4 linked regions of the Homo sapiens genome follow. The protein of the gene in region 4 interacts with the protein of the main gene of each other region in a biochemical or structural test. Each region holds a gene or a part of one and is shown on either strand. Other genes may lie near its edges. The genes, in order: SIK2, DYRK1B, PKN2 and HDAC5.

Region 1 (7,245 bases), on a different chromosome or scaffold from region 4:
GTTCTGCCATGAAAACTGAATTTAAAACAAAAGTTTTAATTAAACATCTTATAGTTTTTAAGGTAGTTGTATTTATCAAAAACACACAAACATTTATCCAGTGAATGAACGAATAAGGATAAATAACTGCTGTAAAAAACATCATTAACAATGGAATTGTTACTCCCATGGAATACTTTAAGAAACAATTGGGCCAGGCGCGGTGGCTCACGCCTGTAATCCCAGCACTTTGTGGGGCCAAGGCGTGTGGATCACTTGAGGTCAGGAGTTCGAAACCAGCCTGGCCAACACTGTGAAACCCCGTCTCTACTAAAAACACACAAATTAGCCGGGCATGGTGGTGAGCGCCTGTAATCCCAGCTACTTGGGAGGGTGAGGCAGGAGAATCGCTCGAACCCAGGAGGCAGAGGTTGCAGTGAGCCGAGATCGCACCACTGCACTCCAGCCAGCCTGGGCAACAAGAGCGAGGCTCCGTCTCAAAAAAAAAAAAAAAAAATTCAGAGCAACTTTACAACCTAGAGATCCAGAGAACTTTTCTGTTCAAAGATTGCTTTGACATTTCACTTATCCCTCTCTACCTTAATATCTCCAATCACACCCACCAAATTACCACAGATACCCTCACCCATCTCAAATTCACACTATTTCTTTTTATATGTTAATAACAGCTTCTTTAGAAAAGCACAGGGAAATGGGTTCTGCGGACTAAACATTTAGCTTTTAACGTAAATCATTTTACACATATATACTACACACACGATTTAGGATCTAAGTCCTCTTTCACGATCTGACCGGTGCTTGTTCCAATTACAAATGAATGCATTGATCTCACTCTGATAGCCAAACCACGGTATTACTCCATAGTGCCCCCTAGCTCTTTAAGATATATTAGTTTAAAACGGACACCATTTGAATTGTCAACCTCAAAGTGTCAATCACTCCACTTAAGCAGCTCTTACTGTATTAACTAAATTTGACCTGATAAATAATAGATGACTTAATTAAATCTTGCTATTAATCCCAGTAAGAGCTGATGAGAAAAAAATATTAAGAACTGATGGATTTGGAATTCAACCACACGATATACTACAGTTCAAAAGTTTTGTAGAACCTCTCTATAACTCACAATTTGTTTGTTTTTAGAAAGTCATTAAGCAAGGACTCATAAAACATGCATTTAAAATGCCTTCTTTTATGTAACTTAAAGGGAAATGGCATGGCATAGGCCATGGCTCTTCAGAGGAATGGAACCAATTTCTTCATTTTAAAAAATGCTGGGATCAGATTAAGATTTAACAATATCACTATAGTCAAGTTATCATTATCATTACAAACAATCTAAATTGCTAACTGGTAAATCTGTGAGAAGAAAATATCTGACCTTGGTCCTGATTCTAAAAGATAAGTCAGATTTGGACTGGTTCAGGACCAGCAGGGGAAGGCAAAAAGTAAAGAAGACAGAATGACATATACCCCTTCCTTTTGGAAACGGGATTAAGCAAAACTTCTAAGTACAACTGCAACTCCAAAAATCACTCACGTTTGCAAGTGCCCTTCGCCTTACATAAGTCATTCTGAAAAGAAGTCCTACTTTATTCTACACTCAAACTCCAGTACATTCGTACTAACAAGGGAAAAAGCAGAATAGGACCAAAACTGGAGGGCAAACAAACAGGAAAAGGATGAAACTCCAGGAGGAACTACAATAAGGCAGAGTAGAGTACGTCAAAACCACTAGGTTTTATTCTAAAGAATGGTTTTGTTTCTACCGTTCTTCTAAGGTATTTAATTTGCACGTCTTAAAATAGAGACCCTGAGGAGAGCAGCTTGAGGCAGTGGAAGGAAGGGGGGCGGGTTAGGTAAGAACAGAGACTTGTGAGAGAGTATGTGCGGTGCATTAGAATGTGCAATGAAGAGGGTGCAGGATTCACCGTCAGGAAGCAGTTGAGGGCTTTATGAGTAGAGGCAGAATCTGATATGGTTTAAAGAATGCGTATTACAGCCAGAATGCACACCTGGTACAGTGACAACCCTAGACAAGTAGAAGACCAATCCACCCACCGTGCAAATGCAGAGATGACCATTTTAACCAGTTCTATTGTCTGGGGCATTAAATGGAAATGCCCCAGGCAAGAGATCAAGCTAGCCAGACACCAAATCAGAGACACCCTGGGCCAAAAGGAAGGAGAGGAGATGGACAGTGGCCGTGGGGGTATTCCCAGCCATGGGGCCCTTCCTCGTCGGGCAGGGGAGGGGCGCCGGGGTCACGGGGGCCGCACGATCCCCCATCCGCGGAGCCCAAGCGCAGGCGGTCCCCTCCTCGGGCCGGCGACGTCTCTCACGGCGCAGCCTGGGAACACCGAGACTTCCCCTCCCACCCCACCCCCAGCCGAAAGCAGGGAAGACGCGGAACTTGGGCTCCGGAGCGGAGGCCACAGACCAGGTCACGGCCCGGGTGGGGGGCTCTGGGCGAAATTCCGGGTGGCCACCGGGGGTGGCGTAGGGGAAAGCAAAGCCCCGGCTGGTTGCGTTTCCAGTCGGACGACACTCGGGTCCGGGTGCCCGGGCCCGATCCCTTCGCTGCTCACCGACCCCCTGCACCTCCTGGGTCCTCACAGTCCCAGGCCCGCTCGCCTCCGCCAGTGAGGCGGCCTCTCGGGTCTCCCCGGTCCCACCACTGCGGCCGCCCCTCTCGGTAAGCAGCTCCTCTCCCGAACCCTCGCCTCGGACGCTCCCGCCGAGCCCCGGGCCGCACCTCCGTCTTGGTGATCCGGTGCCGCCCCAGCTTCACCACAGCGAAGTTGCCCTTGCCCAGCGTGCCCTCGATGTCGTAGAACCCCACCCGGACCGGCCCGCGCTGCAAGTGCCTCGGGCCATCCGCCATGACCATGCTGGGCCCCGCTGCTAGACACGGCGGACAGGAGCGCGGGCGGGCGGGAGGGTTGGCAGCGCGGCTTGGCTTGGGCGACGGCCGCTCCGCTTGCTCCTTCGCTCCTTCGCTCCTTCCCTCCCGCTCCCCAGGGCCCAGCCAGGCGCGCGCCGCCGCTGACGTGCGCCGACGTCAGGGGGCCGGGGCAGGGGGGCGGGGGCGGGCCCGAGCCTGGATTGGTCACCATGGCGACCGAAGCACCGCCGACGTCGGCTGCTGGAGAGTGGGGGACGGCGCACGGGGAGGGGCGCGAGCCTGGCCGGCGCGCTCCTTCCGGGCTCAGACGCCCTCCCCTCGCCCCTCCGCCTCACCGCTGCCAGGGGCGGGGTCGCTGCTCGGCCCGCTCCGTTCCTCGGCCTTCCAGGCGAAGGGCAAGAGCGAGCCCTGGCGGACCGTGCGGAGGGGTGCAGAGACCTGGATGCGGCCTGCGATCTCCTTCCCCGCCCCGGCGTTCTCCGCCCACCCGGGGTCCTTCCCGCCAAAACCTCTCACCTACAAGTACAGCGCGTCCTAAATTTGGCACCGGCAAAGAACTGTGGCTGAGCAATGCGTTGCTCACAGGCTCCTTTCTTTGTGTCCTTTTCTCTTCTCGTTGCTATATATAATAAAACCCTCCACGTTTTGATGTCTCCGAGGAGTCATTCTGACAGCAGTGCAGTCGCTTATAGACTCACAGAATGTCAATGTCAGCGCTGAAGAGATCTTGGAGATCACTTAATCCAGAGATTTGGAGCCTCATGTGAGCTTCAGAGTTTGGAACCCCCTAAAACACAGGCCAGTTTTTGCTTATGTGAGCATGTCTCTGGGGAGATGGACCCGTAGCTTCTGTCAGATTCCCAAACGCGTTGGTGACTCTGAAAAAGTTTAGAAATATTTCTCTAATCCAATTTTTTTCCCCAAAGGACGAAGAAGACCTCAAGGAATAAAGGGAATTGCCTAGGTCACACAGGCAATAGTCGAGGTAGGATTATAAATCACACCACGCTTCCAAATGTGACTCAAGGAAACAGGGACAGTGACACCTCACTATTTTGAGATGTATCATATGCCTTTATATCTTGGTTTCTAAATACCATTCTCCACCTAAAGGAGCCAGACTCCGTGGCGAGATGGCTCATTCGAGGGCAGAGACAGGGAAAGTATAAAATGCCCTTGAAAGATCCTGCTCCTTAAAGCAAGGAGATTTCTTGGCTATGTCAAGGAAGATATGTCAAAAGAAAGCAGATGGCTCGAAGGTGCTCCCCCCTTACCAAATCTGAGACAGTTTGAGTATCAGGAATAAATAATGGGCCGGGCTTAGTGGCTTACGCCTGTAATCCCAGCACTTTGGGAGGCTGAGGCGGGTGGATCACCTGAGGTCAGGAGTTCAAGACTAGCCTGTGTGAAACCCCATCTCTACTAAAAATGCAAAAATTAGCCGGGCGTGGTAGTGGGCGCCTATAATCCCAGCTACTCGGGAGGCTGAGGCAGGGAGAATTGCTTGAACCAGGGAAGCAGAGGTTGCAGTGAGCCGAGATCGTGCCACTGCACTCCAGCCTGGGCGACAGAGCGAGACTCTGTCTCAGTAAATAAATAAATAAATAAATAAATATAGAAATTGATTCTAACACATTGAATTTTTTAAAAGAATCGTAGAGCATACTTACTTTTAAACAGAAAAATAAAGAGGGGAGAAGTGAAATGACGGTGGAATGCCAACTAATATATGTTAGAAGAAATGACAATTAGCAAATCATTTGGCAGCCATTACAGTAATAATGGATTCAGACAATTATCAATAGATGTTAAAATCATTGAATAAAATTTGGCTGGGGAACAAGATATTTGCACAGTCTTTGGATTTCTTATTCATGATAAAGGGTTAACAAGGGTACCTCTACAGTGGAGAAATCTGACCGACACTACCCTAACCAAATGATCAAAGTTAATGTCACCAATTATGTGATAAAATGACATGATGTGCCTCCAGATGTGAGGCACTGAGGTTACAATATCTCTTAAGTAGTATTCCTGTCAAAAATGCATATTATGATCTAGAAACATCAGAAAGATGCAAACTAAGAAACATTCTACTCAACAACTGACCTGTATCCTTAAAAAACATCAGTGTCATGAAAGTCAAAGAAAGGCTGAGGAACCATTCTAGATTTAAGGGATTTAAAAAGGCATGGCACTAAAGGCAACATGTGGTCTTGAAAAAACATGCTATAAAGGAATATTTCAGAACAACTACTGAAATTTGAATATGGATTACATATTAGATAAGATACTGTTTCAGTGTTAAACTTCTTGAATTTTATAATTGTACTGTGATTATAAGAGAGAGTATCCGTTATTAGGAGATACACACTAAACAATTAGGTATAAAATTTTTGGCCGGGCGTGGTGGCTCACACCTGTAATCCCAACACTTTGGCAGGCCGAGGTGGGCATATCACTTGAGGTCAGGAGTTCAAGACCAGCCTGGGTGGTGGTGCGCCTGTAATCCTAGCTACTCTGGAGGCTGAGGTGGGAGAATCGCTTGAACCTGGGAGGCGGAGGTTGCAGTGAGCCAAGATCATACCACTGCACTCTAGCCTGGGTGACAGAGTGAGACTCTAACAAAAAACAACAAAAAAAAACCTTTTGATATATGCAACTTACTGTCAAGTAGTTTAGCACAGATAGATAAGGCAAATGTGGCAAAGTTTTAAATTGATAAAATAGGTAAAAGGTAGGTAAAAGGGTATGTGGTAGATCGTTGTACTGTTCTTGCAACTTTTCTGTAGTTTTAATTTTTTAATGAAAATTAATATATTGTGTATTATTTTATTTTAAAATTTATATATATATATTTTTTAGTGCAAGATGGCTTTTGGGCCCTCCACTGCTCCCTGTGCTTCTGCTTTTCACTCTCCCCAAGCAATACCTTATTCTACCATGAGGTATGTTGTTTGCAAAAGTGAGGGGAGAAATGGGGGAAAGCTGTAAGGCTGATCAGATTTCTGAATTGATGGGAGTGGTGTATGAGTGGTCCTCTAACTAGTGAGAGGTATTCTAATTAGGCTAGGAACCTACATATGTATACCAGTTCAAAAATAGTTCCCATGTGCATTTTGCCACTTAGATGATTGTATTTTTTTTTTTTTTTGAGGTGGAGTCTTGCTCTGTCGCCAGGCTGGAGTGCAGTGGCATGATCTCAGCTCACTGCAACCTCTGCCTCCTGGGTTCAAGCGATTCCCCTGCCTCAGCCTCCCAAGTAGCTGGGATTACAGGCACGTAGCACCATGCCTGGCTAATTTTTTGTATTTTACTACAGACGGGGTTTCACCATGTTGGCCAAGATGGTTTCGATCTCCTGACCTTGTGATCTGCCCGCCTTGGCCTCCCAAAGTGGTGAGATTACAGGCGTGAGCCACCGCGCCCAGCCAGATGATTGTATTTTAATTGTTCTGGGGGTGGGTTCCTTTGGGAATCTGATGAAAAGCCACTTAACCAAGAACCAGAAAATACGCAGGGAGACCCACTACAGTGAACAACCTCATCCTTTAAAGTATACCTGTTGAATGGAAATGGATTCATTTGAGTATTTAAATTAGATAACCAGGCCAAACACCTACTTGCACAGTCTGGGAATAAGAATTGATTTGGGGCTGGAAAGAAGAAAAAGGGAGGACAGAGAGTACCAAAAGGTTTTGGAAAGCTGGAGTTAGTGTGAGCATGCTGGGTGTCTACAAGTTAGAGAACAGGAGGCCAGAAAGAGGGAAGAGACAGAAGGGGCTGTGCCAAAAATCAGCCTTACTCATGTGGAAATGCAGTGGGCGTGCTACTCAGCGTTACTGGTAGGCTGTAAATGAAACCCTGAAGAAATACATATATGTGGACTAATTTAGAATACTGCAATCTTGGATTCTGTGATTCAACTCTTTCCTTAATCCAAAAGACCTACTCATCCCTGTCCTATTTCAACCCTGCCTGTCTCTTATGTATTTTTGTTTCCAATTAAATGATAGCTGTATACATTTTAGCAATTATTAATATTATCCAACTCCTGCTTTCCTTTTCTCTTCCTCTCTCCCTCTTTCTCCTCTTCTTTCTCTTTCCCTACACACACACACACACACACACACACCATCCTCAGGAAAAAAGAATAAAGATAAGAGGGAAAAGGAGAAGAAAGAGAGCTTCATACAATCCCCATCTTTCTTTTCCGTCTCTGGTTTTAGTATCAGTGAGGGAAAGCACTCTAGTCACCAAATTCCTTTTTGCTTGAGCTTTCAGATGCAGCATTCCCAGCTGATGCTGTGGGTCTATGATATTTAGCATTGAGTTGGTTA
Region 2 (6,337 bases), on a different chromosome or scaffold from region 4:
TTACCTGGAACCCCGGGAAAATCTTTTTGTCTCAGAATCTCAAAACTCTTTGTTTCGCGATGATTCCAAAGAGCTGGACAGTACACGTGGGGACAGAGTCTGTACCTATTGTCTGCCTGTTCCCCAGATGGCACCAACAAAGCCTCCTAAGTGTACTCAGCTGCTACTGGACGCCTGCTTGGCATGAGGAGCCACTCTTGTGCTAAGTCTGCGGACGCCCCGGCTTATTAGGGCACCTGTTTCCCAGAGACAGGCCAGAGCTGAACCTTTACCCTTTCAGGGTCTATTTACCCAGGAAAAGGCAAATGTAGGCCAGGATCCTGTCCACGATCTATCTAGAATGCTGATGCCCCAGACCTGCAGACTCATGCCTGCAACACGCGCCACAGCTTCCCCACGAGACGTCTCCACACCAGAGCTCCTCCAGCACCCCCTCCGCAAACCCCCTTCCCCACCATGCCTCTGAGGGTCGGGTGAGGGGAGCCGAGGCCCTGCAAACGCTCAGGCAGGCATGTGAGAAAGCTCTTTACTGGGGGTACAGCGAGGAGGAGCAAGGCCATCTCCCCCTACCTGCCCCCACCCCCTCCTAGGGTCCTGGGGTGAGGGGGGGTCTTCCCTCCACCGGACCACCACTGTCTTTGGTACAATAAATAGAAAAAAAGGGGGAGAGGGGCCCAAGGGTCCAGTCCTTAGTGGGGAGGGAGCGGCCAAAACCCTCTCCTTGACCCCCCTGCCCCAGGCCCCAATCAGTGCAGGCCTCACCCACCCCAGCTGGGTAGCAGCAATTCCAGTCAAGGAGAGAGATGAGGATGGGAGCCCAGGGCCCCCAGATGGGGGAGGGTATGGCTTCAGGAGGGGCCCCAGGGAGGGGGCAGGGTCACGAGCTGGCTGCTGTGCTCTGGGGTACACCACGGAGGCCCAGGTGAGGCCCCAGAGTGGCAGGGTCATCAGGAGGCGGGAGGGGTGGACGACCTCCAGTCATCCGAGTCCGGAGGGCTGAGGCAGCCGGGTGCTGGGGGGCAGGCGCTGGGTGAGGTGGGGAGCAGTCAGCAGGGCCGCCCACCAGGCTCACATCCATCAGCTCCGGGGGTGGTGGTGAGGTTGGTGATGGGGGACGACCAAGGTATCGGGGCTGGGGGGGTAACTGGGCCCCGGTCCCAGGCAGTGACGAGGCAGAGGCAGGGGCTTGATGTGTCTTGTGGGGCACATCACCCCCTGCCCAGGGCCGCAGCGGCTGGGAGGGTGGGACCTAAAAAAGCAAAGGAGCCATGGGTGATGGAGACCCTGGTCTCTAAGCCCCAGGCACCACCACCCACCTCCAAAGCCCCCAAAGCCCCATTACCTGGGGGCTGTTCATCTCACAGTCTGTGATAGGGGGCCCAGGGCCCCCACAATATCGGTTGCTGTAGCGGTAGGTCCGGTTGTCACTGGAGGAGCCACTGGAGCCTCCTGGAAGTGCCAGGGAGGAGAGGTGAAGGGGCATAAGGTGAGAGAAGGTGGCGAGTGGGTTTTGGGATGGCTGAGGGAAGGTCACGGCCCAGGCTCAGGTTCAGGCTTCAAGAGCAGAGCCCATCTGAAGCACCGGGCCCAATTCTGAGATTCTGGGTTGGAATTCAGTTTTGGGTTTTAGAGTCAGAACCAGTTTCAGGGCTCTGAGCCCAATTTCAGTGATTGTGTCAGGGCCAGTTGGAGCTCTCCCATCCCACACGTCATCTTACAGTTCAGGATCAGTTTCGGCGCTTTGTGTGAAGACCCAGTAACCAGGTCCCCCAGGACAGGCCAAACCTGAGCAGCCCCCACCCGTTGTACCCCATTTGGGCACCTGGGCACCCACCAGAACTGGAGATGGAGCTGGCGGTGCTGGAAGAGGGGCAGGTGTCGAGGGGCGCGGGCGAGGTGGAGGCACTGCTGCCTGCCGGGCCCGTGTTGGTGGCCTCGTCGGCCGTGCGGCGGAAGAAGCCGTGCTGCAGAGCCCCCAGGGGGCTGATGCGGGCGGCGGGCTCATACTCCAGCATGCGCAGCACCAGGTCCTGGAAGCGGAGGTAGTCGGCGGGGCTGTGGCCCGGCTCCCCCGCCCGCCGGCCCCCGGGCCCGCCCGTCTGCACGCCCAGCACCTCCTGCAGCCGCCGTGTCCCGGGGCCCTGGTAATCCTGGCAGGGAGGGGGTGGGAGGGGGGGCAAGAGAGTGGCCGTCAGTGGGCAGGAGGGGCAGGGAGACACACACGGGGAAACAGAGGCACAAGAGAGAAAGTGGAAAGAAAAGCTAAGAAGAGTTGTGGGGTGGGAAGGAGAGATGGGAGATGGGGTGGGCAGGGGAGGAAGGAAAGGACAGACAAGGGGGAGTGGAAGGAAGGGAAAGACACAAGGGAGAGGGAGCAGGGGGAGAGAGCCCCAAGTGTGAGTGAGGGGCCACGGGGTGGGAGGAGTGGCATGGGGCAGGGGCCGCACCTTCCTGAGTTCTTTCGTCCTTCGTAGGGTCCAGCCACCCCCAGGCAGCCGTTCAAAGTACTTGCGAGCCTTGGGCGCCTGGTCCAGCATGGCGGCCGGTGGGATGCCCAGCACCTCCACAATGCGGTTCATCTGGTCGACCTGTGAGCAGGCAGGGGTCAAGGTCATCAGGCCAGCCAGGCTCCACCCCCTCCACCTCCAGCACACCCCTTCCTGGGGGCACACCTCATTGGAGCCACTGAAGAGGGGCTCTCCGGTGTGCATCTCCACAAGGATGCAGCCCAGGGACCACATGTCAATGGCCAGGTCGTAGGGTGTGCCCAGGAGCACCTCAGGTGAGCGGTAGAAGCGGCTCTGGATATACTGGTAGATCTGGGAAAAGGGTAATCGTCAAGGGACCCAGCCTCCCCTACTGGTCCCACTGACACCCCCAAAGCTAAGAGGACCCAACTGAGGACAGGCTTCTTGCTGACAAAATGGGGACTGAGGCTCCAAATCCTGCCATTATCAGCACCAATTTTCTGGGAGCCACTGGTGCCATCTTGTTTATCAATCTGGGGAGTCTGCTGGCCTAGACAGACCCTGATCTCCACCCCCAACCCGGATCCTGGGCCCTTCTGGGTCACCAGGCAGAGGCTGACATTCCATAAGCCCTATACCATCGTCACTTTTAGTGGCAGCTCATACAGAGCTGCAAAGTTGAAGCCTTCCACCTCCATCCTCAGCTTTAAGAACAGAGAAGACAAAAACTTAGCGAGGCAGCACCCCTGGCTCAAACCCAACCCAACTTCACCCTGTTCACATCTGGCAGCTTCAAAATGGGCCCTGCCCCTCAGGCTTCACCCTTCCCATCCTAGTGGGCAGTATATTCACACCCCCACCCCAAGCATTATCCCTCAGTTCCCACGGCTCCTAATAATCCCATCCCAGCCAAGCCCCGCCCCTAAGCCTCCCGTTGGCTCTGCCCCACCCAAACTACTAGCCGTGCTCCCAGGACCGGGCCGCCCCCTACCCTCTGGCCAAGCTGGCAGGAGCTGCCGAAGTCCACAATCTTGATGGCGCTGCGCTTGGGGTTGCACAGCAAGATGTTTTCGGGCTTGAGGTCGCAGTGAATGATGCTGAGCTCAGGCGTGGCCAGAAAGAGCAGTGCCGTGCAGAGCTGCTGCGCCAGCTTCCGGGTCAGGTTCAGCGAGACGCCGCGGAAGTGGGTGTTGCGCAGGAGGTCGTACAGGTTGTAGGACAGCAGCTCAAATACCAGGCACAGGTGGTTCCGGAACATGAAGTGCCGCTTCAGGTGTACTGCGGGGGAGGGGAGGAAATGGGCCAGAGAAGAAACGGCTCAGAGAGGGCAGGTGGTGGCCTGGGGTCATACAACGCTCTTTGATTACTAGCCACATTGTGCTGTCCCCACGGGTACCATCTGCTAGTCAAAATCTTTTTATCTAACAACTAGATTCACACAGGAAGTTAATGCTCTTTCCAAGTCTCTGTCAAACCCTCCAATTAAACCAAAGAGAAAGTTTCATTAGTTACTACTAGCTCTAACACATTCTACACTTCCTCATTTAATTTCATAACACTGCTTTCATCTCCCTTGTATTCATTTTTGTGGCAAAGGACACTGGTTTTCCGTTTACTTTAAGGATATACGTTTTCCTTTCAAACGAAACCATTTTAAAATCCACTTGCTGTTTATGATTATGTTGTGATGTTTATGTCCATGAGCAGGAATCAGTTTAAGGGAGGAGAAAGACTGGCACAGATGTTAAGAGTAACAGCTCTGGAGTCCACGACCTCATCAAATTATAGCTCAATTAGTACAAACTGCCACCTCATGCAAGTGACAGCACTTGAATGCCTGAGTTTCTTTTTTCCTTTCTTCGTTTTTTTTTGTTGTTGTTGTAACTGTTGTTGTTGTTATTAGGTTTGGTTTTTTGTTTGTTTTGGGTTTTTTTTTTTTTGAGATGGAGTCTCGCTCTGTCATCAGGCTGGAGTGCAGTGGCGTGGTCCCAGCTCACTGTAACCTCCGCCTCCCAGGTTCAAGCGATTCTCCTGCCTCAGCCTCCTGAGTAGCTGGGACTACAGGCGCGCACCACCACATCAAGCTAATTTTTTCACATTTTTAGTAGAGACGGGGTTTCACCATGTTGGCCAGGATGGTCTCGATCTCTTGATATCATGATCCGCCCACCTCGGCCTCCAAAAGTGCTGGGATTACAGGCGTGAGCCACTGTGCCCAGCCCGTTTTGTTTGTTTTATTGAAGAAGAAACTAGGATGGAAGCCCAGGTTTCTTATCTTCAAGATGTTGTTAATAATGCCCTTCCCCTTATGGGCTGTGGTGAGTTAACTTCCAAGTGCTTCCAAGAGAGCCTGGCCCTTGGTGAGCACTCAGTAACCTCTGACCATTACCAAGAAAATAGGACAAAAATCATAAAAGCAGCAGGAGAATCACTGATGTCAGAGAAGCACAGACCAAACCCTGCTCTGAAGACATCAGCCTCCTCCTGAGAGTAGGGCGGGGGTGTGACCCATCCCTACTGGCTCCAGCTCCCGCTATCCCAGGTGCCCACAGCCCTGCCAGTCCCAGGCCTCACCTATATAGTACTTCATCTCCGTGTCATGCTGGTTCATCAGCTCCAGCAGCCGCAGCTCAATCTGGGCCTGGTTCAGGAAAGCCTTTTTGTTCTTGATGATCTTGATGGCCACAAGCTCCTGGGTCTGATGATCATAGGCTTTCACCACCTGTTGGGGCAGGGCATGTCACGAAGAAAGGGGTGGGAGCAGGGCAGAGCCAGGCACCATTCTTCTCCCTCCAGGCAAGGAGACCCACCAAGAACACTATGCATACTTCGCAGCTGAGTGCGCACCATTAGTCAGGCGCTGGTGTAAACACTGGATGTGAAATAACATAACGACCTTATGTTGAGTCTTGTTATTTAAACTGTTTTACAGAAAAGGCGACTGAGGCACAGGGAAACTAAGTGGGCTAGGGTGAGTGGCCCAGCATGGGACTTGAAGCCACTGAACCACTGGGTGTGTGATCAATGTTAGTGGGGCCTTGGATCAGGGTGGTGGGGGGTGTCCCACACCTGGCCAAAGGAGCCTTTGCCAATGAGCGAGTCAATTTCGTAGCGCTCCAGCCAGCGCTCGCCACTGCGCACGATGTAGTCATGGTTGTCGTCATCATAACCATGGTTCAGGACCTTCTTCTCCTTCTTGTTGCTCGAATCCTGGGGTGGCGCCTGCTGGGCCCGCCGCTTCTTCTTCGCATAGTATACCTGCCCAGCCAGCCAGCCAGGAGATGGGGACTGGTGAGTGACTCATGCCAGCAGACAAGACCCTCGGCACCCAGCCCAGGATCCCCCAGCCCCTGCCCACCTCATTGATGTGCTTGTAGGTCTTGATGAGGTCCACAGAGAGCTTACGCAGCGGGGCTGAGGTTGCATCCCGGAAGGCCAGGGGCAGCCTCCGAGGCAGTAGCCGCACATCAGGCAATACCTGCAGGGCAGGGTGAGGGGTGGGCACTGAGGACGTGCCTTCACCTCCGACCTCAAGAGGAAGAACTGTAAGGGCTGCTGGCACATCATGTATTTGGTTGCTGTCTGTATTTGTTCCACCTGTCTAGGAAAGAAACTCCCCCAGGGCTGAGACTTTCTCTTGTTCTTACTATACCTCCAGTGCCTACAGCAGGGCCTGGCACACAATGGATGCTCTTAGAGATCTGTGGTGTGAATGAGTGAACTCTGACCTTTCACCCCTCACCTTTACTCCTTTCTGAACCTCAGAGGGAGAGATCATATGGAAAACCTGGGCTCTGTTCCTCCCCATTCTTCACTTTGAAGCCAGCCATTTTGGGTACCCTCTGAAGTACCTCTATCTCAATTTACCC
Region 3 (7,605 bases), on a different chromosome or scaffold from region 4:
ATGTTATTCTCTCTCCCTGGAAGGCTCTTTACACCTTTTCCCCCTCAGTTAACATTTACACACTTATGAGAACTCAGCTTAAGTGTGAAGTACTTAGGAAAAGATTGTCTGCCCTATGTTTAAAGTACTATGAATTTACCTTATCATTATACCTGTTTTACCAAACTACAAGTTCCATGACAAAAGCGACCAGGTATGCTTTGGTAACCATTATATTCCCAGTGACAGGAAGAATTAAATTCTTTTCTCGTTCCAAAGAGAAGTTTTTCTGCATTGTTGTGCACATGGCAGAAAATGGCTATCCAATCCATAGAACAACACCTTGCCACTCTAGACTGCCAATTGATCAGCATTCCAATGATCTGTTTCCAAAGTCTTAGAGGGAAAATCTGATTGGCTAAACCTGGATATGGTCTATCAGTGATCTAATCATAGTTTACTGGAAGAGCTATGTTAAGCAGAGTCAACATGGCTTCAGAGATATCTCTGTGTATAGGAGGAATTTTCAGTCAAGTGGATGTGGACTGAGCTGACATTCTAAAAAGCAGCTACTGTAGTCACTATAGTTGACTACTCTTCTGTGTTCTTAATCAAGAACCCTGTGCTCAAAATTATCTTCAGAGCGCATACAAGAGAATGATTTCTACAAGGGGGTTTCTTAAGGAAGAAGAGGGTGGTGACCAAGTAATTCTTACTCTGACCTCTGGAGTTTTGCCTTTCCTTAGGCACTCTTACTTTGATTACCACTGCTACTTCATTCTAATCTTTTGGAAGTAGGGGTGGGCTTTTTCTTCTAACATGGAAAACAACAACAACGAAAGGAAAACAAAACAAAACAAAACTCTTGTATTGATTCTCCATCATACTGTAGGGACACGTTTGAATTGAACAGTTTACAAATATTAAGGACAAGCAAAAGGGAAATAAACAACGGAAGGCAATAAAAATGTGACTCACAAAATAAAGATTTCTGGCCCTTTCCCTGGACATATGGTTCCTGTCTCATTTCACTTGAAATTTAAGGAAAAAGAGGGCCCATATTATCTGAATATCTGTTTCAAAAGCACAGAAAATGAAAAAAAAAAAAAGTTGTTAGCTTTTCTAGAATTTTTCCTGTAACATCCCATCTTTAAGAAAAAAAGATAACACTTTCTATTTATTTCTAGATTTTTGGTCATTTCTACTTCTTAAAGACCTTTAAAATATTTATGAAAAATTTAAAAAGGTACCAGCATAACTAGTGATACAATCCAGATATTTTTAAGGACTTTGCCCTCTTAAATGGACACTAAAAAAACTCTTCTTTTTTTTTTATTGTTAATGTAAATTACTTCTGAACTATATTTAAGATTCTCTAAACACATTTGTAAATAGGGGCCCAATACAACCCATCTGAATCAACCTGATATGTTTCCATTAAAACTTTTTCAAGTGTGCTTCAGTCTGATAAGTATGATCCATGTCCTATTACGTTTTTTTCCCCCTGAACAGAGAATGTGACCTGGGTAGTAAATTTTAGCTTAAATGAAACTAATTTGCTGTTTAAATCATCACATATTTTAGATTATCAAGTAGTTTTAATATTGTTGGCCTCCCTTTTGTACTACTTTCCCTAGCACAGCTAATCTCAGAAATAATTCCTTAACTTTAAAAACTTTGTATATTTGTTGCTTAAATTTACATGTGAAATGTAAAATTAATATTCCTTATCAACAGTGGTGTGCACCTATAGTCCCAGCTGTTTTGAAGGATGAGTCAGGAGGATCCCTTGTGCCCAGGAATTTGAGGTTGCAGTGAGCTATGATCATGCCACTGCAGTCAAGCCTGGGCAAAAGAGCGAGACTGTCTCAAAAAAATTTTTTTTAATTATTAACACTTTTAACATTAGAAGTGTGTAACATTTAAAGTCTTTTTCTACGGTAAAAATTTAATGCTTTCAGTTTAATATCAATTTAAAGTTATTATAGTGGCATGGTGAAGGTTAAAACAAGCATGGATGGCAATTAGGAGACTTAGGTAATAGTCCCCATCTCTGCCACTAAGTAATACTGCTGTCTTGCTTCTAATTAGCTAAGGAAACTATTAATTTTTTTTCCTACCTACAATAGGAGTTAAGCTAGATATTTCAAGTCACTTCTAGTTCTAAAATTACATGATGCTGAAATGTGAACATTTATATCTAAATTAATTTTTACAAAGACTGCTCATTGACTGTATTTCTAAGCCCTTGCACAGTTAACTCTTAGTTCCACCATTATTAATCACCTTCTATGTGCATGTCAGCCATCTCAAATCCATTCTGCAGTAAGCCTTGACAAAAATAAATTTGTACGCCAGGCACGGTGGCTCACACCTGTAATCCCAGCACTCTGGGAGGCCGAGGCAGGAGGGTCACGAGGTCAAAAGATCGATACCAACCTGGCCAACATGGTGAAACCCGTCTCTACTAAAAATACAAAAGTTAGCCAGGAGTGTTGGCATGCGCCTGTGGTCCCAGCTACTCAGGAGGCTGGGGCAGGAGAATCACTTGAACCTGGGAGGCGGAGGTTGCAGTGAGCTGAGATGGCACCACTGCACTCCAGCCTGGTGACACAGCGAGACTCTGTCTCAAAAATAAATAAATAAATAAATCTGTGTGCATTCAATGCCCCTGAATTGTACACTTATGGTTATAATAAATTTGATTATGCATTTTACCATAATAAAACATTATACACACACACACACAAATGCATGCAGTGCTCCCCTAACACTGTATCTATTACTTAAAATGGCATTATTGTTGTTCGGACATAAGTTGGCTTCCCCAAAGAATTCTCCAGTCACCCCAAGGATAAGTACCTTTTTTTTTTTTTTTTTGAGGCAGTGTCTCACTCTTACTGCAACCTCTACCTCCTGGGTTCAAGCAATTCCCCTGCCTCAGCCTCCCGAGTAGCTGGGATTACAGGCGCACACCACCACGCCCAGCTAGTTTTTGTATTCTTAGTAGAGACAGTTTCACCAAGTTGGCCAGGCTGGTCTCGAACTCCCGACCTCAGATGATCGGCCAGCCTTGGCCTTCCAAAGTGCTGGGATTAAAGGCGTGAACCACTGCGCCTGGCCGGATAAGAACTCCTAATCCTTTCTGTAACTCCAAAGCCTAGGAAACCATCTGGCTTTTAGTTACCAGTAAAGGTAATCATATCCCGGCCTTTCCAAGTGTTCTTTCATGTATTTAATTATCATCTTCAACCAAGGCAATATACTAGACACATAAATAGTTGTAAGACTTGTGAAGTACACACCAGAAAAATTCTTTATCACACATATGATAAGTTAGAGTTCAGAAACTGTGGCCACAGAACTCCAGATCTTCAATACATGTTTGCTGAATTGATGTATGAGACTTGAGAAGGCAAAAGGATAGACGTTAAGTCCTGGCATCAGGCCAACAGAGTTACATGGAGCGTGTGAGAAGTACATAATGTTACACTTCCTAAGAAATATGTCAACGAATGCCCTTTCTAAGTAGCAACGTACCTAAATAACCCTTACCACTCTCTCCAGGTAGTTTTAACAAAGGTATTGTACCGCAGCTTCAAAAAATCAAAAGTTACGCGTTTACCTATCCATTCACTGCTCAGACAAAACAAAAACAAAAGCTACCTGTAGGAGACTTCGAAATTCCTTAATACCATAGTGTCATTAAAAACAAACACCTAGATTTACTTTACTTAGCTATATTTTACTAAGTAGTCAGGTTAGCTTTAATGCTTACCACGCCAAGGAAAGGTGGCTTTTTTCCTTTCCCGAGGGTAATCCCGTCCCACCTCCCCCTCCCTTAAATAAAGTTAAAACAACCCAAAAAAACCCAGCTAATTCTCAGCTCTGTACAGTTCTCCAGTACAAGCAACAGTAGTTCAACCTCAAGAAAAAGACATCTTAAAGGCCGTACATTAAAAGTTGCCAGGGATCCAGCCGCTTACATTTCATGAAAAGTACAGACCATACCCGTTTAGCTAGCTGTGCACCTTAACTGGTCGAGAAGGCGCGCTGGGGGCTGGGTTTGAGGGTGAGCAAAAGGCAAGATTATTAGTTTGGGTTGACGTGGGGGTCAAGGGGAGAGCAGAGGAATAATCTGTAAGATCTGAGTCCCGAAGCTCTTTGGGTTATGGAGGTTAGAAAAGGGCCTGTTAAAGTTAGGCCCAAGTTTCGGCAAGGTGGAACTGGGAAAAAAAAAAAAGAAAGAAAAAAAAAACGAAACCCGAAAAAACAACAGCGAGCAGGCTCCCGAGTTCTAGCGTTCACAGTGAAGCCGTTAAACGCAGCAGGAAAGTAGGCGTGTGTTTTCTTCCTCTTCCCGCCTCCCCAGAGACTCGAGCCCAGTCCTTTCCCCTCATTTTCACCCCAGCCGAGTCCAATGGCTGCCCTCGCCGCGGAGTCGGGTCGGAAGACGCCCCGCCCCCTCGCCGCGTTCGCCCTAGGGAACCCCTCCGCCCCACCTTCCCTGCCCGATGAGGGGCAGTGGCTGCCGCCGTCACGTGTGCTGGCAGCCGCCAAGTGAGGCCGCTTTTGCGACGCGGTGACAGCCAAATGGTGCGACAGGAGGAGCTGCAGCCGCGGCCGCAGCGCCCGCACGGAGAGGCTTGAGGCGGCTCCTGGCGTCGCCCAGAGGGAGCGACTAGACGAACAGTCCGGTGAGGGCGGCGAGAGGAAGCCCGCTACGAGTGCCCTAGCTCCCCGCCGCTCTCGATGAACCGGACGGAATAAGCCGCGCCTCCAGCAGGGGCTGCGCCTCCATGAATCCCTAGTTGTTTTTTTTTTTTTCTTTCTCTCCCCTCTCCTCACCCCCACCCCGAGCCCCGTCCCGCCTTCTCCCTTCGCCAGAGGCGGCCGCGTCCAGGTGCGGAGTCCATACCGGAGCGCAATGGCGTCCAACCCCGAACGGGGGGAGATTCTGCTCACGGAACTGCAGGTAAGGGCCGCGGCCCTGGTGAGAGGCGCTGGCGGAGGAGACAGGGAGAGAGCCCCGCGCGGCGTCGGGGACCGAGGAAAGCCCTGCGGCCGCCGCGCCCCTAGCCCGCTAAGTGCGGAAACTCCGGGATGTCACTCGGGAAATGCTTCCCTCGGGGAACCGCTTCCCTGGGGAGCCGGACCCTCTCCCCCGCCAAAGCCCTGGCCTGCCACCGCTTTGGTTTGATTCTGCCTACCAGAGGGGACCCCATCTCTGCAGCCCTGCTGCAGCGGGAGCCTGCTCTCGCCTGGTCCCCGGAGAGGCCGGCCCGTCGCCCCCTCCCTCGGTGTCAGAGCTACCCGCGAACGCCCCTGTTGCCCCCTCCCTTCGCGCGGCCGGGCCCCGCCCCGCCTTTCCTCCGTACACCGCTCCTTAAACTCCTTTGAATGACTCCCAAGCTGTTTTCTTGTCCCTCCCCCTCCCCTCAGACTCCGCACAAAGAGCGCCCCCATAACTTCCAGCCCCTAGACAAGTTTTTTTAAAAAACGAGTCTCACCAAATGTTTGCTTCACTTCAGCAGCCCTCTTCAGGTGACAGAGTTTCTTTCCTCTATTTTGAGGGTTATCTTTTTCTTTTCTTTTCCTTTCTTTTTTTTTTTTTAACCGAGTGATAAATACAGGGTGCCTTTCTCTGCTACCCCTGCCCAGATCCGGGAGCTCAGATGCTGATGCTTTTCAGACTTTCATTTTCCCTCTCATTTGAGCACCAGAGAAAGAGCTAATAAGTTGTTTACTAATGAGAAAGCAGTCGACTAAGGGAAAACATTGGGCACCACATGTCTGCAAAAGATGAGAGCAAAGTAGATCGCTTAGTTAAGTCATGTCGAGTAGCAATGTTATTTCCCATTTCCAGATAAATATTTGATAATGTAGGCACGATTTTCTTTAGATCTCTATGGTGTACATGGGGACTTAAGCTACCCTGTCGGGTTTTTCATTACTTGGGAGTGTTCCAGAGATGTTTGTTTTTTGACTTAAAAGTTATTTTGCTTTATTTTAATATAGTTATCTTTTAGCTACTCAAAGATTGTAGATGGGAATTAGGAGAAAAAAATAGCATGCCTGCATTTCTTTTTGTGTGTTGGACAGTTAATTTTTTTTAAAAAAAAGACTAAATCAAGAAATTCTGAAGAGTTGATGTCAAAATTAAGTATTGCAACTGCATCTAAATTTCTTGTTTAAATATACTTTTTAAGAAATCTCTTTATAAGTTTGGTTTCTTGTGCAGTCAGACGTAAGCTTGAAAACTTTGGTATAATGGTTGATATTTCCTCCACAAAAATAGAGACTTTAACAATGTATATCAATGCAGTGTTGCACATTTAGAATCCTTTGGTAATGCAAAGCTGAATTTCATATAATTGAAAATGTTGCTATGTAGTATTTTAATTACAGTTAGCCTTTTATAAGCAGATCTTACAGCATACCACATTTGCTAAATGAATGGAATTTACTATTTTATTAATAGTAAATAATTTACATGAGCTTTTAAAATGAAGATGATGTGAGGCAAGTCAGAAATACTTTACATTGCCTGGTCTTGAACCATGAAAAACATACTTTGGTTTTGATTGAGAAAGATGATAGGGTCACTTTTCTTTTGAATTGAGCAGTGTTAGAGTTACAATATATTTGGCATTGGTACTTGTATGTTATAGAAAGTTGGCATAAAAGACACCTACTTTGGCACTGGAACTGAAAATATATTTTCATGTGTATTAATAACATTTAGGATCTTTTAATTAATAAGATCAATTTTGATAATAACAAGGAAGCAAGCAAAGAAGGAAGAAATTTTAAATATGATGACCTAGAAATACGACCAAAATAGAGGAATACCTAAAGTTAAGCTTCTAGATAAACTGAAATATAACCCCTTCCAGAAAAAGAATAGTTTTTATTAAGTGTTACCTTATAGGTTGTCATATATCCAAGTCATTTTCTTGGTTTATTTGACTCCCAGTTTTGATAAAAGTTATTGCATTTAAACTTTATCGTGTTTATTAAAATGTTTGCGACTATTACTTATATCAACACTTAAAGATAAATAGTCATAAAGTTTGCTTCTCCAAATATTTCCATCTATTCAGACTTTTTATTTCATTGGGTCCTGAAACTTAGTGTACAGCAACCAAGTATTTATTAAACTTTTGTTTCAAGATTCACTTTTTTAAAAAGCTTCTAAATTGTTTGAATTTAGACTGAAATACTGTTTAATATGAAGTTCTTAATTCTTCTCTGCCATACAGATTTTAAGTATTTAAGAAGTTTTGTAGCCAGTTTTAAGATGTATTTAATGGTTAAAACTGTTACTTTGCTATGTATCCTGTCTCAGGAATACTTGTTTACTCTGAAAGTTACATATTACAACCTGGCTTTAATAAAATTGATATTTATTTAGAAATATATCCAGCTTTTCATTATTTTTTCAAATTGTAGAATTTGAAATACTCCACTGCTTGAGCTGGAATTGGCTTTTGGTCATGGAAAGGCAAAGTAAGAAAATCTGAAACTACAGTATTCTGTCTTGTTAATTACTGTAATAGCATGGAGTAATGTTTTTAAGTATTGTTAGTAATTCAGGAGGCTTATTCAACAAGGAAGCATTAATAA
Region 4 (7,024 bases):
GTAATCCCAGCTACTCGGGAGGCTGAGGCAGGAGAATTGCTTGAGCCCAGGAGGCAGAGGTTGCAGTGAGCCGAGATCGTGCCACTGGACCTGGCCGACAGAGCGAGACTCTGTCTCAAAAAAAAACAAAAGAAAAGCTAGGTGTGGTAGTGCCTATAGTCCCAGCTACTCAGAACGCTGAGGTGGGAGGATCGCTTGAGCCCAGGGTGGTGGGGGCAGTGGTTGAGGCTGCAGTGAGCCATGATAGCACCACTACACACTCCACTCCAGCCTGGGTGACAGAGTGAGACCCTGTTTCAAAGAAAAAAAAAAAAAAGCTGGAGAGGAGAGGGGGCAGGTTTGTGGCAGGGTGGCTGCAGTGGCCATGGGGAGGTGTTTGGACCTGGGGGTTGGAGACAGCTCCATGAGCCCTGCTGAGGATCATGGTAGCCAGGCTGGGATCCTGGGCCCAGAGCAGTGCTGGCTGACACATAGGTCTGTGGCCCAGGTGTGGTCTACGACACGTTCATGCTAAAGCACCAGTGCATGTGCGGGAACACACACGTGCACCCTGAGCATGCTGGCCGGATCCAGAGCATCTGGTCCCGGCTGCAGGAGACAGGCCTGCTTAGCAAGTGCGAGGTAAGGGAGCCCCTCCTTCTTCTGGCTCTCAACTTAAATCCAGCCTTTGTTTCCCTGTTAGATAAGCCTCTCTTCATGCTTCTTCCTCATCCTCTCTTCAGCCCCAGACTTCGGGGCCAGTTCTCCCACCACCCCGTTCCATCCCTTGCAGCCTGTTTTCCCCCATGGTCCCCAGCTGAGTGGGGGGGATCCGGGAGTAAGGTCATGACAGAGCCAGGATCTACTTTCTGAAAATATTTGGATCTCCTGAGGCCAGGAAGTGGCTCTGTGTGCCCTGGCTATGGGGCAGAGAGGCTCTGAGAGAGCTGTGCCTTTGTGTGACCCCTCTTACTGATCCTCCTGGCAGCGGATCCGAGGTCGCAAAGCCACGCTAGATGAGATCCAGACAGTGCACTCTGAATACCACACCCTGCTCTATGGGACCAGTCCCCTCAACCGGCAGAAGCTAGACAGCAAGAAGTTGCTCGGTGAGCTGGCACATGGGTGGGCGGGCAGGCATGTTCAGTGTCAGGGTGGGATGGGGGCTCTCAGGAAGACTGCCTGACCAGGCTAGGAGGGTTGTCCCCACGGGCATAGGGCATTGCTGCGGCAGAGGTGGCACAATTATCACGTCACACACCTCCAGAGGGCGCCACTAAAATAGAGCATGCTGTGGGGCGCGGTGCAGGAGGATGGAAGTGCTCGGTTGGGGGGACTGCTTTGTTCCCCTCCTCCACGGCTTATCATGCTCCTCTCTCCCTGCCACCTGCCCCCAGAGGTAAGACGTCCCCAAGGACAGAGGACTGACAGCTTCCAACTGGTGTGGGCTGCAGAGGCCTGTCTTGTACTTGGGTCTGAGCCCTCATTTTTGGTGGCTAAGCCTGTAGCCCTGTGGCAGTTGAGGTGCCTTTTTTTTTTTTGAGACAGTCTTGCTCTGTTGGCCAGGCTGGAGTACAGTGGTGCGATCTCAGCTCACTGCGACCTCTGTCTCCCCAGGCTCAAGCAACTCTCTTGCCTGAGCCTATTGAGTAGCTGGGTTTACAGGTGTGTGCCACCACGCCCAGCTAAGTTTTGTATTTTTAGTAGAGATGGGGTTTCATCATGTTGTCCAGGCTGGTCTCGAACTCCTGACCTCAGGTGATCCGCCCGAGGCCACTTCTAGAGTAGCTCTATTCCTCTTCCATGCAGGCCCCATCAGCCAGAAGATGTATGCTGTGCTGCCTTGTGGGGGCATCGGGGTGAGTAGGGCGTACAGCAGTGGGGGTGGGCGGGCGGCTCTCCTAGGTCTGTCTCTTCCCTGCCTACCACAGCCGCTGGCCCACTGTCCAGGTGCCCTCCCCTGTTCTTGCCCTGCAGGGGGCACACTGAAACCTGCTCTCCTGCCCTGCAGGTGGACAGTGACACCGTGTGGAATGAGATGCACTCCTCCAGTGCTGTGCGCATGGCAGTGGGCTGCCTGCTGGAGCTGGCCTTCAAGGTGGCTGCAGGAGAGCTCAAGGTGAGCGTGTGCTTGTGACCTCGGTGCCCCTTGGCATGGCCCTGCTCCTCAGAGGCAGAGGACAGGGGCAGCCTTGGGATCCTTTCAGTGAGGCACTGTCCTTTGCAAGCTCAACTCTCAGGCACCAGGGTGGGAAGGAGTTGCCAGCTGGGAATTCAGGTTATGAGGGACCAACAAAAAGACACTAATGCCCAGTGCTCTCGTGGGTGTCTCGAGGCAGAAATAGTGTCTGCCTGCTCAAGCCTCATGGTTGGCATTCAAAATGGTCCGTTGAGGCTGGGCACAGTGGCTCATACCTGTAATCTCAACACTTTGGGAGGCCGAGGTGGGCAGATAGCTTGAGCCCAGGAGTTCGAGACCAGCCTGGGCAACATAGTAAAACGCTGTCTCTACAAAAAATTAACCAGGTGTGGTGGCGTGTGCTTGTAGTCCTAGCTATTCAGGAGACTGAGGTGGAAGGATTGTCTGAGCCTGGGAGGCCAAGGTTGTAGTGAGCCATGATCGCGCCACTGCACTCCAGCCTGGGTGACAAAGCAAGACTCTGTCTCCAAAAAAACCCATAAAAAAACAAAGAAACCCCAACAAAATTGTGCATTAAACATATGGATCTGCTTTTCTGGTTTGTGTTCACTTCCCTGCCTGGCTTGTGCTTCTGTCCTGTGCTACCCCCTCCACGGCCTTCCTGCCTGGATCTTGCCCCTCACCTCTGCCTGCACCTCTTCAGAATGGATTTGCCATCATCCGGCCCCCAGGACACCACGCCGAGGAATCCACAGCCATGTGAGTGCCCTAGATTCTCTGCCCTCGCCCCTTCCTGTCTCTTGCAAACGTCATGCTGAGGCTGACCTCCTGCCCTTTTCTCCCCTCCTCAGGGGATTCTGCTTCTTCAACTCTGTAGCCATCACCGCAAAACTCCTACAGCAGAAGTTGAACGTGGGCAAGGTCCTCATCGTGGACTGGGTAGGCAGTGAGCTGGTGGGGCTGGGCAGGGGCGGGTAGAGCTAGGACCAGGGTCAGCCTTCAGGAAGTCTCCTCCCCCAGCCCCACCTTCAAGCACCCCAGTCGTCCTCATCCTCGGGTGCTGGGTGTGGGTGCAGAAGGAAGGGCGCTGGGGCTCCTGCCGGATGACTAACGTCACATTCCAACAGGGCTCCCTCCTCAACTATGAAAGACATTTAGCTCCTGTTCCATCTTGGCCCTCACGTTGCAGTTTCAAGCAACGAAGGGGATTTCCTACCTTGAACGGTAGTGACGCTGCCGCCATTGCTAGTAGCCGATATTTCCTCCCACCCCCTACAATTAGGAGCAGACTGTATACCAGGAACACAATGAGTACTTTATGGCCACCTCGAGTAGTAAGAACGAGGATGTCCATTTCTGTGAACAAAGGTGTTGTTGCGTGACTTACCCAAGGCCACTCAGCTGGGGATGTCGGCACTGGGTTTCAGACCAAGGCTTTTGGCCCCAGCACTCTGCTCTTGCTACCATGGGTGCTTCCCAAACCCTGCTCCTAATGGTGGAGGCAGAGGCACACACCACTCTCTGTGAGCTGGGGAAGTAGCCAGGACCAAGCCTCAGGAAGGACAAAATCTCTTGGAAGCCCAATTCTGGCTTAAAAATTCATGTAAATGTTGGATCCTCCTTCAGAATCTTACGTGCTTGTGGTTGGGCACAATGGCTCAAAGCCTGTAATCCCAGCATTTTGGGAGGCCAAGGTGGGTGAATCACTTGGGGTCAGGAGTTCGAGACCAGGATGGCCAACATGGTGAAACCCTGTCTCCACTGAAAATTCAAAAAAATTAGTTAGGTGTGGTGGCGGGAGCCTGTAATCCCACCTATTGGGGAGGCTGAGGCAGGAGAATTCCTTGAACCTGGGAAGTGGAGGTTGCAGTGAGTCAAGATCATGCCACTGCACTCCAGCCTCGATGACAGAGTGAGATTCTGTCTCAAAAAAAAAAAAAAAAGAAAGAAAAGAAAAAGGAAAACAAAAAAGGCCGGGTACAGTGACTCATGCCTGTAATCCCAGCACTTTGAGAGGCCGAGGTGGGTGGATCACCTGAGGTCAGGAGTTTGAGACCAGCCTGGCCAACATGGTGAAACCCCATCTCTACTAAAAATACAAAAAAAATTGGCCGGGCATAGTGGTGGGCGCCTGTAATCCCAGCTACTCGGGAGGCTGAGGCAGGAGAATCGCTTGAACCCGGGAGGTGGAGGTTGCAGTGAGCCCAGATCGTGCCACTGCACTCTAGCCTGGGCAACAAGAGTGAAACTTGGTCTCAAAAAAAAAAAAGAAAGAATCTCATCTGCCTGTTTTAAATTCCCTACTAGCCTTAATGTTTTCCCCAAAACTGTGAGGTGGAATGGGTTCTGTAGGGAGATATGCCACATTTATCCCATGGTTTTGAATATCACCTACACAGTGCCACCCCACAGAGGCTCAGACCTAGTTAGAGAAGTGTGGGGTGTGCAATACCATTGTGAACAGAATATGGATGCCCTGTGGCCAAGGGTGGAGTCCTGGGCTCAAGCGATCCTCCCAGCCCTCAGCCTCCCAAAATGCTAGGATTACAGGCATGAGCTACAGTGCTCAGCTGACAGGTGGAATTTGACCATTGGGTCAGAGCGCGGGCCATTTTCCCGATGCTTCTACCTCCCCTCATAGGACATTCACCATGGCAATGGCACCCAGCAGGCGTTCTACAATGACCCCTCTGTGCTCTACATCTCTCTGCATCGCTATGACAACGGGAACTTCTTTCCAGGCTCTGGGGCTCCTGAAGAGGTACAGCTCCTGGGCGTAAATGCAGACCCTCCTGGCCCCTCTGGGAGGTGGCACAATGGGACCTGGCGGGGAGCCACGGAGGCCCATGGTGGTGTTGGTACCTGGGGAGTCTGGGCTCCTAGTGGGAGGACCACACTGATCTGACTGCCCCTCCAGGCAGAGCAGAGGTCAGTGGAGTGAGATCTGGAGGCAGGGGTGAGGGCAGGGGCAATGTTTGGGACTCCCAGGTGGTGAGAATAGCCCTCTCCCCAACTCTGGTGCCAGGTTGGTGGAGGACCAGGCGTGGGGTACAATGTGAACGTGGCATGGACAGGAGGTGTGGACCCCCCCATTGGAGACGTGGAGTACCTTACAGCCTTCAGGTAGGGACTGAAAAGGGCCATGGTAGTCAGTGGGAGCCCCTCTGGGCCCTGCAGTGGGAGGGGCAGAAGGCACTCAGTTCAGTGTGGGTAGAGGGGGTTGTCTCTGGGAGGATAACAGTGGGGCGAGGCCTGGCCTGGTCATCTGCCGGGCTCAGCTTGAGCCATCCCTTTGCAGGACAGTGGTGATGCCCATTGCCCACGAGTTCTCACCTGATGTGGTCCTAGTCTCCGCCGGGTTTGATGCTGTTGAAGGACATCTGTCTCCTCTGGGTGGCTACTCTGTCACCGCCAGATGTAAGCCTGCTGGGGGATTGAGGGAGGAAGTGAAACAGTGAGGATATCGAGTCCAGTGAGGCATGGGGCAGGGAACAGACTGATATTGCAGCAGACGGGGAAAGCAGGGGGCAGGGCCTAGACTTGGAATCATCTTGGTAACTCCCCCAACTTGTCCTCTGCCAACCCCGGCCTTGAGGGGATAGGAGGTGGCAGTGGGGTAGCAGAGGATAGAGGATGTATCCTGCCGGAGCTGTAGAGATGGGCTTGTTGGTCCCTGGTGTTTCAGTGATGCTCCTTGTCATTGGATTGGAGTCTTCAGCCAGTCTGTTAATGTTTTGACTGTGATAGGGCATTTAGTTCACTGATGCTGTATTTTATTATGGATATATTTGGGTTTATATCTCCCATCACATTTTGTGCTATTTGTCCCACCTCTTGTGTTTCTTTTTCTCTCCTTTTCTTTCTTTTTTTTTTTTTTTTTTTTTGAGGTGGAGTCTCACTCTGTCACCCAGGCTGGAGTGCAATGGCGTGATCTCGGCTCACTGCAACCTCCGCCTCCTGGGTTCATGCCATCCTCCTGCCTCAGCCTCCCAAGTAGCTGGGATTACAGGCGCGTGCCACCATGGCCGGCTAATTATTGTATTTTTAGTAGAGACGGGGTTTCACCATGTTGGTCAGGCTGGTCTCGAACTCCTGACCTTGTGATCTGCCCGCCTTGGCCTCCCAAAGTGCTGGGATTACAGGCGTGAGCCACCGCGCCTGGCCTTTTTTCTCTCCTCTTACTGGCTCTTGAATTGATTGATTACCTTTCGCCATTTCTTCTTCCTCCCTTCACCCATCCTCAAAGGTTTTGGCCACTTGACCAGGCAGCTGATGACCCTGGCAGGGGGCCGGGTGGTGCTGGCCCTGGAGGGAGGCCATGACTTGACCGCCATCTGTGATGCCTCTGAGGCTTGTGTCTCGGCTCTGCTCAGTGTAGAGGTAAGGGGTGGGAAGGAGCTGGGAGGTGGCAGGCCAGAGGTCTGAGGGGCCAGCAAGGGGTCAGCCAGCACTGGGAGCCCCTTAGGAAGCTTTTCCTTGGTCCTAAGGAACAGCTAATGGCCAGGCTTTCTGAGTATGCGTTTGTCCAAAAAGGCCATGTTTGCCCCTGTTGTGAGGGATATCTGGGGCTGAGTGGGGCAGTTAGAGGGGTATGCATGGCAACCCTACTCCCCACCCTAAGCCTTCTCTTCTTTCCCCTGCCAGCTGCAGCCCTTGGATGAGGCAGTCTTGCAGCAAAAGCCCAACATCAACGCAGTGGCCACGCTAGAGAAAGTCATCGAGATCCAGAGTGCGTGAGGACACGTAGAGGGGCTCAGGCTGCCAAGGGGGCACGGAGCTTGTGGGAGCACCAGGACTGGGACTGTTCATGTGGGTGTCCTCTGCCCTCCCTGACCCCTTGCCTGTCTCTCGTCCACAGGCAAACACTGGAGCTGTGTGCAGAAGTTCGCCGCTGGTCTGGGCCGG

What was found.
Region 1: of the proteins of HDAC5 (region 4) and SIK2, one has a biochemical effect on the other in vitro, tested with the Homo sapiens proteins (2 studies listed by BioGRID).
Region 2: of the proteins of HDAC5 (region 4) and DYRK1B, one has a biochemical effect on the other in vitro, tested with the Homo sapiens proteins (one study listed by BioGRID).
Region 3: of the proteins of HDAC5 (region 4) and PKN2, one has a biochemical effect on the other in vitro, tested with the Homo sapiens proteins (one study listed by BioGRID).

Annotation. Positions count from the first base shown.
Region 1 is NC_000011.10:111,598,209-111,605,453, reverse strand, and holds the start of SIK2 (serine/threonine-protein kinase SIK2), read right to left. Parts: upstream 3,006-7,245; 5' UTR 2,891-3,005; coding exon 2,756-2,890; intron 1-2,755. UniProt on the Homo sapiens protein: Serine/threonine-protein kinase that plays a role in many biological processes such as fatty acid oxidation, autophagy, immune response or glucose metabolism.
Region 2 is NC_000019.10:39,824,838-39,831,174, forward strand, and holds the end of DYRK1B (dual specificity tyrosine-phosphorylation-regulated kinase 1B), read right to left. Parts: intron 5,947-6,337; coding exon 5,827-5,946; intron 5,727-5,826; coding exon 5,538-5,726; intron 5,191-5,537; coding exon 5,043-5,190; intron 4,966-5,042; exon of another isoform or gene 4,879-4,965; intron 3,747-4,878; coding exon 3,460-3,746; intron 2,820-3,459; coding exon 2,673-2,819; intron 2,589-2,672; coding exon 2,448-2,588; intron 2,151-2,447; coding exon 1,835-2,150; intron 1,450-1,834; coding exon 1,343-1,449; intron 1,250-1,342; coding exon 878-1,249; 3' UTR 513-877; downstream 1-512.
Region 3 is NC_000001.11:88,679,675-88,687,279, forward strand, and holds the start of PKN2 (serine/threonine-protein kinase N2), read left to right. Parts: upstream 1-4,598; 5' UTR 4,599-4,906; coding exon 4,907-4,954; intron 4,955-5,489; exon of another isoform or gene 5,490-5,530; intron 5,531-7,605. UniProt on the Homo sapiens protein: PKC-related serine/threonine-protein kinase and Rho/Rac effector protein that participates in specific signal transduction responses in the cell.
Region 4 is NC_000017.11:44,078,619-44,085,642, reverse strand, and holds part of HDAC5 (histone deacetylase 5), read left to right. Parts: intron 1-487; coding exon 488-621; intron 622-967; coding exon 968-1,088; intron 1,089-1,788; coding exon 1,789-1,838; intron 1,839-1,990; coding exon 1,991-2,098; intron 2,099-2,822; coding exon 2,823-2,878; intron 2,879-2,970; coding exon 2,971-3,058; intron 3,059-4,760; coding exon 4,761-4,880; intron 4,881-5,144; coding exon 5,145-5,242; intron 5,243-5,417; coding exon 5,418-5,536; intron 5,537-6,365; coding exon 6,366-6,499; intron 6,500-6,763; coding exon 6,764-6,848; intron 6,849-6,977; coding exon 6,978-7,024. UniProt on the Homo sapiens protein: Responsible for the deacetylation of lysine residues on the N-terminal part of the core histones (H2A, H2B, H3 and H4).